Regions from separate parts of the Homo sapiens genome. Here region 2 is linked to region 1. A link means that fine-mapping ties the variant in region 1 to the expression of a gene that starts in the linked region. Tissue or cell type: blood mononuclear cells. Region 1 holds a variant in brackets; the other region holds the start of a gene. All regions are shown on one strand. Distances are from middle to middle.

Region 1 (5,153 bases):
GTGTGTGTGAGAGAGAGAAAAAGAGAGAGGGAGAGAGAATGACAGAGAGTGAGAACAAGAGAGAGGGAGAGAGAATGACAGAGAGTGAGAACAAGAGAGAGAGAGAGAGAGAAGGGGAGAGAGAGAGGAGTACTGGCTTTCTGTTACTTCTTTCTTATCAGCAGCTCTGGAAACCTGAGCCAGCAACAAATATTGCAAGGTTTTTTTGCACGCCAGCAAATTTGTTTCACCTAGGGTGCCTCTCCAGGGCCACCCCTCCAGTGTTCATGTTTTGTGGCTTTCGTGTTTCTTAGGAATTTAGAGTGCAGTTGCCTCTTGTGGGTCTGTGTGTCTCCATCAGTTGCAACACCTTACCCAGCCCTCTCCGCCTGTCTCTGCATAACAGGAAGCCACGTGTAATAACAAGAAGCTTGCGGAAGAACACTGCCCCAGAGCTGCCTCTTCCTCAGCACAAGGCAAAGTGGAGATTTGGCAATCAGAGGGCAAATTTTCTCTGTAGAAAATTCTTTGACAATGTAGCTGGTTAACTGCATATGCAAGCTACCTGCTTTCCCAGGCGTTAGTGTAAGGAAGAACAATTCTCATCAGGTAGGACTGCAGGATAATTAGTGCAGTAAGCTCTGCCCAACACCCTAGTGGTGTGTTACATTAGGAAGAGCAATCGAAGTACTGACCCCTCCATTGCCAAAGCTAGTCATTTATTTTAGGTAAGAGGTTTTGGTTCACTAGTCACTAGCATTCATAAATAAATAAGTGCATTAGGATGCTTGAAATATTTGTATTGCATAAGCATGGATGAATTATATGGCCTGAGTAATTCACAGGAAGGACCCTTCCAGGGCAATGCTCAAGTACTGGCAACTACCATCAAGCACTGGCCCTTGAGGAGGCTACAAGCCATTACAGCCTAACAGACGTCACTCCAGTCAGTTTCTGGGGCCTCTACAGGTCTTAGGGAACAGTGATTTTAAACTTTAACACTACTGAGAGTTAAAGTGACCAATGAATAATGCTAGCAGTGGGGTGGGCCCAGGAAACGAGTCATAATATGTTTCTCCTATTCTACAACCTGATAAAAAGATTTCATTAAAAACTGAGACAATTTGATCATGGATAAAGGATAGATGATACCAATGAATTATTGATTAGTTTTGTTAGGCGTGATCAGGACAATGTGGCTAGAAAATAAAATTTCCATATTTTTAAGGATGCATACTTAAGCATGGGGAAAATGTGTCTGGGATTTGTTTTAAAATATCTTAGCATAAAAGGGAATAAAAGAAAAAGAAAGGGATAGATAAAACAATGTGACGAAATATTCTGTTGAACTTCAGTAGTGGGTCTACATGGGGGTTCATTATATTTTCTCTGTTGTGTTTGGAATGTTGATATAATAAATGATCTTTTTAAATATTTTATTAGGCTTAAAAATAAATTCAATAGGCTTGTTGGGTTTTTTTTTTTTTACATGTCAACTATTGCTCTAAACTTCAACTTGTCTATTTTCCAAGGTCTGCATTTCAGACCTGTTACTCCTCAGAGCACAGCGGAATGACACTACACAGATGTTATACCACTTACGTACACATTCCCTCCCAGACAGATCCGCCTCCATATCCCTGCACTGTCACTTTATCAGCTGATGAATGGGAAGAACTGAGGGACTTACTGAGGCTGCCAGTATGGATAGTATTTCCTGTAAAGTCAGCTTTTACCCCAACACTTACTGGCAGAGAGAGAGAAAGGGCAGCAGAAACCGGAGGGAGCCCAAGGGTGGTCTGTGAGGGAACTCAGGAAGGAATGACCACCTAGAATTCTAGGTGACCTCATGGCAAGAGCTTCCATTTCCAAATTTCCATTAAAATGACAAAGGGACTAGCTCAATAATAACAAGGGGAGATCTAAAATGAAAGTAAAAGTAAAGAAGGATTCTATCTGCATGCCATTTGGGGGGAAGACGGATTTCTGCAAGATGTAGGATAGGCAAGGCTAAACTGAAGAAAGCTGTTGGTCTCACAACTCAATGCATATGGAACAGCCTGCCCCAGAGGGAGCGGAAAGGGCCCAAGAAAATCCTGCACTAACAACACCTAGAGAGGAACAGCAGCAGCATGGAGGCAGGGAACAGATGGAGACCTGAGAGCTCCTTCCAAGTGCGCACAGAGGTCTGGCTGGGGCATGTTATTTCCAGTTTACCCTGGGTGCCCAAAGTCAGGCCAGACAAAAAGTAACAGCTCTGTCCTGCTGGCTCCTCAACCAGGTCACGATACCAGTGAGAACAGAGGGTGCCTGTCCACCTAACCTGGAGCTACACAAGAAGAAAAACAAGAAGAAAATGAACTTTCCTTCAACAGAGAGGGTAGCTACCCTCCCTTAACCCCTTAACTGGATGCGTCTTAAAAAGTTACACATAAGCTTGCCATAGCACCCAGCAATTCCACTCCTGGGAATCTATTCAGGGGATGTGAAGGCACAC[G/A]TCCATAACAGTTTTTGAATGTGAATGTTTCTAGCAGTATTATAGATGATGGTCAAAACTGAAAACAATCCAGAAGCCACAAACAGGTTACTGGATAAACAAAATGTGGGAAAGCCAAACAGCGCAATACTACTTGGCAACACCAAGGAGCAAAGGACTGATTCATGCCACACAAAGAACCTCAAAAACATTCAGCTAAGTGAAAGAACCTGAATGCAAAAGACAACAAATTATATGAGTCTGTGCATAAGAAATATCCAGAAAAGGCAATTCTGTAGAGACAGTGGTTGCCAGGACTGAGGGTGAGAGCAGGGATTGATTGCAAAACGGCTGGAGAGAACTTTTTGGGGTAATAAAAATGTCCTAAAACTGGACTATGGTAATCATCACACAACCCTATAAATTTACTAAAAATCATTGAATTGTATACTTACAATGAAGGAATTTTATGGCATATAAATTATACCTCAGTAAAGTTTTTAAAAGAAAGATTAGAAACTAAATAATATATATAACTGCCATACACACAAAAAACCCACCATGGAAACAGTGAAGAGTAGAACAGTTTCTGCAGAAAAAATGAGAATAATTTTCTACACTTTTTATGTGGTGAAACATGCCAGAAACTCTGCAGAGTTAGAGATTTTTGACTGTTTTGTCACTCAAATGTCTGGAATATTCCAGGAATGCAAGAATACTTCAATATTTAAAAAACTAGTAAATGGTTTAGCCCATCAATAATTTAAAAAGTCTTATGTTTTCAAAGATTATGAACTTGCTTTTGATAAATTCAACATTAGTTTATATTAAATGTTAGTTATAAAGAACAGAAGATCACATTCTTAGGTGTTAAAGTGTATCTCAAACCGAAAAAAGGGGAGGGAAGAATTGAAGGAACGCTCTGTATTGCTGAAAATGCAACTACAGAAAATTGGAAGAATTAAACATTTTTAGGATTCAGGCCAAATATTTGCTTGGTGTTTTAACTGTATATGGAAAAATGATGAAGTACAGCAGAGAATCTTCAAAGAAACAGAAAATGACACAGCAGAATACTTCTGATACTTCTACTGTGTCATATAATTGAGAGCTGTGAAGTTTATGAAAATTTTCACTGCTGTGACACTTTGCAATTTTGTTAAAGATTTTTTAGAGTTTGATAAAGAAAGCATTCTAAAATTCATGAAAGATGATCAAATACAAAAAAGCCAACATCATTGTCTTGGTTACAGCTAGTGACTTGTGAAAAAGTATCGAGATTTTACTTTTTCATAAAATTTTATTATTTATCAGCATTTCTATCAACTTTGGGCTACACTTCATGATGCTTGAGTAAGGCTTTGCAGAATGCAGTATTTTCCCTGTGATTCAGCCACTGACATCTGGTAGTTCTGTTTCCTCTTCAAAGCTGTCAAACATTATCAGCTGCCTGAAAAATGTGTTAGGGGGTTTCCCTTTTATCACCCAAGGTCCTCACAAAAATGTCAGGACTTATTTTGTATGTATCTGTGAGCAACTGTAGTGTTTCTGTCTGACCTGGACTTTCTTGGCCCACACACTAGCCTCTGCTTGACATTTCTTTTTGGCTGGCCACTCCTTCACAGTTCTCATGGAAGAACTAGAAGAACACCATTTTTGTTTCTTTTTTCTTTTTCTGTTTGTTTTTAGCCAGTAGTCACTGAAGGACCAACTAAGCTTTTGTGCAAAGGCTGAAGAAGCAGGAACCAGAGATGCACAAACAGGAGGTAAAAGAAGGAGAACCATGAGGGGGTGACTCAACAGGCTAACACCGGGACCCCAGGATGCGGTCCTAATTCCAAATCCCTCTGGCTTAGCACATCTAATAGCATACGAGAGCTTTTGAAGATGAAAAATGAGTTGTAATATTTGACTTGGGCTATTTTTCTCAAATTATAACTTGCGTGATTTATTTTTTCCCAATTATTTTTATTCCAGTAAAACACACATAAAATTTACTATCTTATTTTTGATTGTACAGTTCAGTAGTATTAAGTACATTCACATTATTGCACAACCATCACCATCCATTTTCAGAACTCTTTTCATCTTGAAAAACTGAAATTCTGTACCCATTACAGAGTTAACTTCCTTTTCCTTCTTTCCCTAGCCCTGGTAACCACCATTCTACTTTCTGTCTCTATGAATTTGTCTCCTCTAAGCACCTCACATAAGTGGAATTATACAGCATTTGTCTTTTTTGAAGCAGCTTATTTCACTTAGCATAATGTCCTCAAGATTCATCGGTGCTATAGCATATTGCAGAATGTCCTTCCTTTTTAAGGCTGAATACATTCTATTGAATGTATATACCACATTTTGTTTGTCAGTTCATTTGTCAATGGACACCTGGGTTGCCTCCATGTTTTAGTTATTACAAATGATGCTGCTATGAACGTGATGTACAAATATCTCTTCAAGACTCTGTTTTCAATTCTTTGAGTATATATTTAGATGCGGAATTGTGGGATCAGATAGTAATTCTATTTTTAATTTTTTGTGGAACTGCTATACTGTTTTCCATAGTAGCTGTAACATTTAACATTTCCACCAACAGTGCAAAAGGGTTTCAATATCTCCACATCCTCACCAACATTTGTTATCTTCCAGTTTTTTAATAGCAGCCATCATAATGGGTGTGAGTTGCTATCTCGCTGTA
Region 2 (5,153 bases), 29 kb after region 1:
TCTGCTAAACATCCTATAATTCACAGGACAGGCCCCACAACAAAAAACTATCCAACCCCAAATGTCAATGGTATCTAGGTTGAGAAAACGTTAAAACCACAGATTGTCAGCTTTCCTGACATAACTCCCAGTTCCACAGGTCTTCCCAATAGAGGTAAGTTTCTTTGATATATTGGTAAGCCAGTTCCTACAGTTACACCTGGACACAGGATGCTGGAGAGGGGACTGGAAGTCCTGTGACTGAGTCAAGGGCTCTCCCCCATCAGAGGACTCAGATTATGATCTGAATTCTAGTTCATGTGACACTTATAAATGCATCCTACTGTAGTCCAGTCCTTCAGGGTGACAAACTTATAGATAGCATGGATAATGACAAGGGCTCCTCTGTATTTCATTATGTCCTTATTATTATTTTTTCATTAAGTAATACTAAATAACATCATCTGCTTGTTTTTGTTGGCTGAAGCATTCATTCAGCCAACAAATATTTATTGTGTGCCCAGTTAAGAACAAGCACTGTGCCCTATACTAAATGGGTGAAAACTGTCTGCTGGGGCTAGTGAACATAGACCACAGTACCTACAGCAGGAATTCTTCCTCAGGTGAGGATGAAAGTGGGGGGTGCTTGTCAAAATGCAGGATCCTGGGCCTTCCTCCAGAGATTCTGATTTTGTAAGGATGGTGCCCAGAAATCTGCATTTTTAGCCAGCACTTGATGTGAGTCTGATATAGGTTATCTATGGGACCATGCTTTAAGAAACATTGGTAAAAATCATGAAATTCACTCAATCAAATCCCAGACCTGAGTATATGCAGTCTTGAGCTCTAGTGTGGTAATTTCCTATATCTGTGAAAAAAATCATTTAACTATTAATTGTCTCAACTTTCTTGTTTTTTAAACCAAAGGAGAGTAAGACCCTAATAACCTGTGTTCAAACATAGGTGGAGAGAAGGCAGAATGACCTTATTTATGTAGAAGCAGGACACTTTCAAAGGAACAGAACCATATAATTTGTATGACATAGATTGAGCATTAGCCAAGTACATTTGTATCAATGATAGTTAGGAGGAAAATCTCTTGCTTTTGTAAGAGGTATGAACATTACCTTTTCTCTGAACTGACCTCAGCATACAATCATTCACAGCTTGATTAGGGAACGCTAATCTCCCCTAGTTATCAAGATAAATGGCTTCTCTGATTACTCTGTTTTCTTTCAAACCCTTTCTCAGACCTACATCATTAATGCTCCGCTTGTGACTTTTCAATGGAGCACTTATTTTAGTAGCACACTTAACCCCATTAGAGGTTCAAATCTAAACCTTTTTCCAAGCAAAATTCCTCCAAGCTGTTAGAAACACCTTAATACTTATCTATATCTAATATCAAGGAAGTTATCTCATGTATGGGTGAGATACATAAATGTAGGCAATAGTTTTCAGCCCGATTGCTCTGATGTGAATTACTGTGACCAATTTAGCAATAGAAGAAATCTATGTAAAGAACTTCATAACGAATATATAGATTAAACTTAATGTATCACTATCATCATTAGAAGGACAGGGTATGGATTAAAGGCCAGACTATCTCAGAAAATATGCCAGTCTCCCTTAAAATAATAAAAAATACATCTCTTTTCCAACTCATCTAAGAATTCCCTCCCATTCTGTTCCTTTAATTATATTTTTATTAAGTAAGGTCTTTATTATACTTTAGTACGTTTTTATGTTCCTGTCTTGTTTTTGTTGTCTACCTTTTGCTACTACCTTTTAATACACCTTGACTCCTGGGCTCACAAAACAGAACACCCATTGAATTTACTTACAGATTGAGCACTTCAAAAGACTCTAGTCTTTGTGCTCCTGTTCAGAACCATTCAAAATATGGATGAGTTTCCAAACAGGAAGGAAATGGAATATGCTAAAAACTCACAGTTTTGTGTGTAGTCTGTAGCCTTAAATCATCCGAAGTACCCCAGATCCTGCACACCAAGGAGTGCCATCCCACTGTTTTGTCCAAATGAAAGAGAACCCCCTCCCAGCATTTTAGAACTTGGACCTGGCATGCCAACTTAAATGCAAATGGTCCCTCAAACTCAGATTTGCTGCGAGATCCATTTTTAAGTAGACTATGCTCCCTGCAGACCAACATGCAAATGGTGCTCGAGTATACGTAAGAATCACAGAGGCAACGAAAAGACACCAACCATACCTATTTTCGCAGCCTCCACTTTCAGGTTGAAATCCCAGTTCCTTGGCAATTTTAGGGACATTTTGCTTCCAGTTTAAGTGAGTAGTTAGTGAAGCGGTGAGTCTGTCACAGTTTGCGCCCTTCTTGTCTTTTCACTCTTTCCCTCTGTTTTTGTGTCTGTTTTTGTTCCTCCTTATGATTGCTTCACAAGCAATCTTAGGCTTGAGGCTGATTTGCCAACGTGTCTCCTCCTTTCTCTTAGATGAAAGGTCCATCCATCTGTCACTGGAGGATGGCACCCAAACTCCCCCAGCCTCCACCCTCAGTCCCACAGGGGCTAGCACCCTGCTTTTCTTGCTTTCAGTTTTACCAGAAATATCCCAGTTGACACTTCCCTCTGCGTCATGGGAAGCAAAGCTCCTTTTCGAAAGAATCTCAGGCCTTACTGAGTTGAGGTCGTGATAAACAACTGCTGCCTCTTGGTTTTGTGTGTGTGTGTGTGTGTTTCTTTTTTAACTGTCTGCTTCCTTGCATTTGAGGAAGTGGGTGGCTGTTCAGTGAAGATGATACATTATGAGCACTCTTTCTTGAGAAAATGGTTTTTGGAAATGCTTGAAAAACCAGAATGGTTGCTTCTGTTATAAAAGATTACAGTTTTAATTAGAAGAAAATGTCGAAACTCCCATCATCTACTTCAACTCTAAGCTCTCCTCTTCCTCACCTAACGGATCAAGCATCCAAAAATGGTCAGAAAAACAACAAGCATTCCCCCAAAGTTATCTTCTTTTAAATTCTTCCTGCTGTAAGGACCATGTCGCAAGCTCTCCAGGTGCTCAGGATAAAGTTTGCAAGTGATCTCAGCCTGATGTAGGGAGGGTTTTGATGTATTTGGCTTAATGAAGCAACTTAAGCTAGGTCGACCCACTCACATATCCTAAGGGTTCTTTGGCATTGTACACAGGGTGTGGGCTTTAGAATCAGGGTGTGTGGGCTGTATACATGGTGTGGGCTTCCATTTGCTAGCTCTTCAACTTTTGAACAAGCAACTGAATCTTTCCAGACCTTAATGTCCTCATCAGTAAAATGGGGTTGATAATAACCACAACTCAAAGGGTTTTTGCAGAGGAATCTAGTGCAGAGCTTGACACAGAGTGGTTGCACCACACACATTAATTCAACCTTTATTCTATTCTATTTAGTTCAGTTCTGTGACAAGCTTTCATGTTTAACTGGGTCAGCCTAACCTAGTGCTTAAGCATTTGGGCCCTGGAAACAGATCACTGGTAGTCAAATCCTGGCTTTCCTGCTGTGGGACTATGGACAAGTTTCTTGACCACTTTGTGCTTCAATTCTTATCTGTAGATGGGGCAAATAATAGGGCTTACTTCATAGGCTGTTGTGAGGCTTTAGTAGAAAAGCCAGTACAAAGTGCTCAGAACAGTCACTGCTAGCCAGCATCTAAGCTGCACGCCTTGCTCCATTCATTCTCCAACTCTCCTAGATGACTCTGTCATACTTTCTTCTTCACCTGCCACTTGCTTACTCTTACTGACGACCTGGGTTCCCGTTTCATTGAGAAAATCAATGTAACTGAAAGAGAATGTCCACAAGCTTCCCTCACTCTATCTGCTCACCTACCTGCATGCAAGCTGTATCCCTGACCTTATTCTTGGTACAATGGGTGAACTGGCTGTTAACACTCTCCCATCCCTATTGCATCATCAATTTCTTCTCTCTCTTTGATCCTTCCTGTCAGCGTTCAAACTTACTATTTTTTATCCCATAAAAAATCTCTCTGGATGCCACCACCCCCTTGGGCTAGAGTCCCATTTCTCTCCTTCATTTCTGAACCAAGCTTTAGTAAGAATTGTCTAACTTGCAAATATCTCTCCTCTTATTCTCTCCCGAATCCCTTGGTTGATGTTTTTGCCCCTATGACTCCACAAAATATATTCTCATCAAGGATACCTACGACTTCCCTGTCACTAAACTCACAGGTCAGGGCTTCATCTTCATCTCACGGGCCCATCAGCAGTGTCGGACACATTTGATAGCTCTCTCCAACTCTGAGCCCTCTGTCCATGGGGCTCCCACGGCCCATGGTTGGCCTGGCTGTCTGCCTGCCTTTCTGGCTTTTCCGTGTCTGTTTTCTTGCTGATTCCTTCTCATCTCTCTGACCTCTAAATATTGAAGGAAACCAAGACTCGACTGGACTCTTTTTCCATCCACACTCACACCTTGGTGAGCTCATCTGTCTCAAGGCTTTAAATGTCACATATTTGCAGATGATTCCAATGTGTATTTCCAGCCCAGACCCCCTGAACTCCAAATCACATGGATCTCTGCTTAGATCTATAGTAGCCATCTCAAACTAAATGTATCCAAACTGTATATCCAGAGAACGAGGCTGAAGGAACAGTGGTGACCTGGTGTATACTCCTGTCTTCAGGAATGAAAGGAGCACAAGAGAGAAGAACCTTGCAAGCGCATTTAACGCCTCTGCGCACACCCTGTCTGCTCACATTCCATTGGCCAACACAGGTCACATGGCCAAGCTCAAAGTCAGTGAGGCCGGAAGTACACCCAGTCCTCAGCAGCAGTGGGGAGGGAGAAGGGCCGGAGGGGTGGAAGAAGGGCCGGAGTGTTTGCTGATCAAGACTCCAATCCACCACACTCACCCAGTCTACCCAGCTACCCTCCAGCCTCCCCAGGGAGCTGGATTCCGCTGAACTTGACTCAGCTACTTGGAGACATTGCACTACTGCCTGCCTGACCCAAACACCACTGCTCTTTTTCGTATCCCAACTTAATTAAGCGGGTGTGAGAGAGGTAGCTGTCTGGCCCGGCCCAGCAGCATCTCCACGGGGGAATTCGACACCATCTAAAATTTCAGTCCTGGGACCTTTAAACTGAGGAATGTTGAAAATATTTTGAAGGTGTCATTAAGAAACACGCAGGGAACTTC

Evidence for each region. PIP is the estimated chance that this variant, and not a neighbour inherited with it, causes the effect.
Region 2: ARHGAP25 starts here. The variant in region 1 is fine-mapped to the expression of ARHGAP25 in blood mononuclear cells (TOPMed, PIP above 0.99). The same link has a PIP of 0.9 or more in whole blood.

The regions. Positions count from the first base shown.
Region 1 is chr2:68,761,674-68,766,826 of GRCh38, reverse strand. The region is part of intron 1 of ARHGAP25 (Rho GTPase activating protein 25); the gene reads right to left. It overlaps LOC105374790 (a long non-coding RNA gene), which reads left to right and starts at 4,157. Exons shown (of 3, transcript XR_940225.3): 1 at 4,157-4,221. The variant G/A (reference allele first, on the strand shown) is at 2,477.
Region 2 is chr2:68,732,317-68,737,469 of GRCh38, reverse strand. It overlaps ARHGAP25 (Rho GTPase activating protein 25), which reads right to left and starts at 2,659. Exons shown (of 11, transcript NM_001007231.3): 1 at 2,210-2,659. The coding sequence starts at 2,270.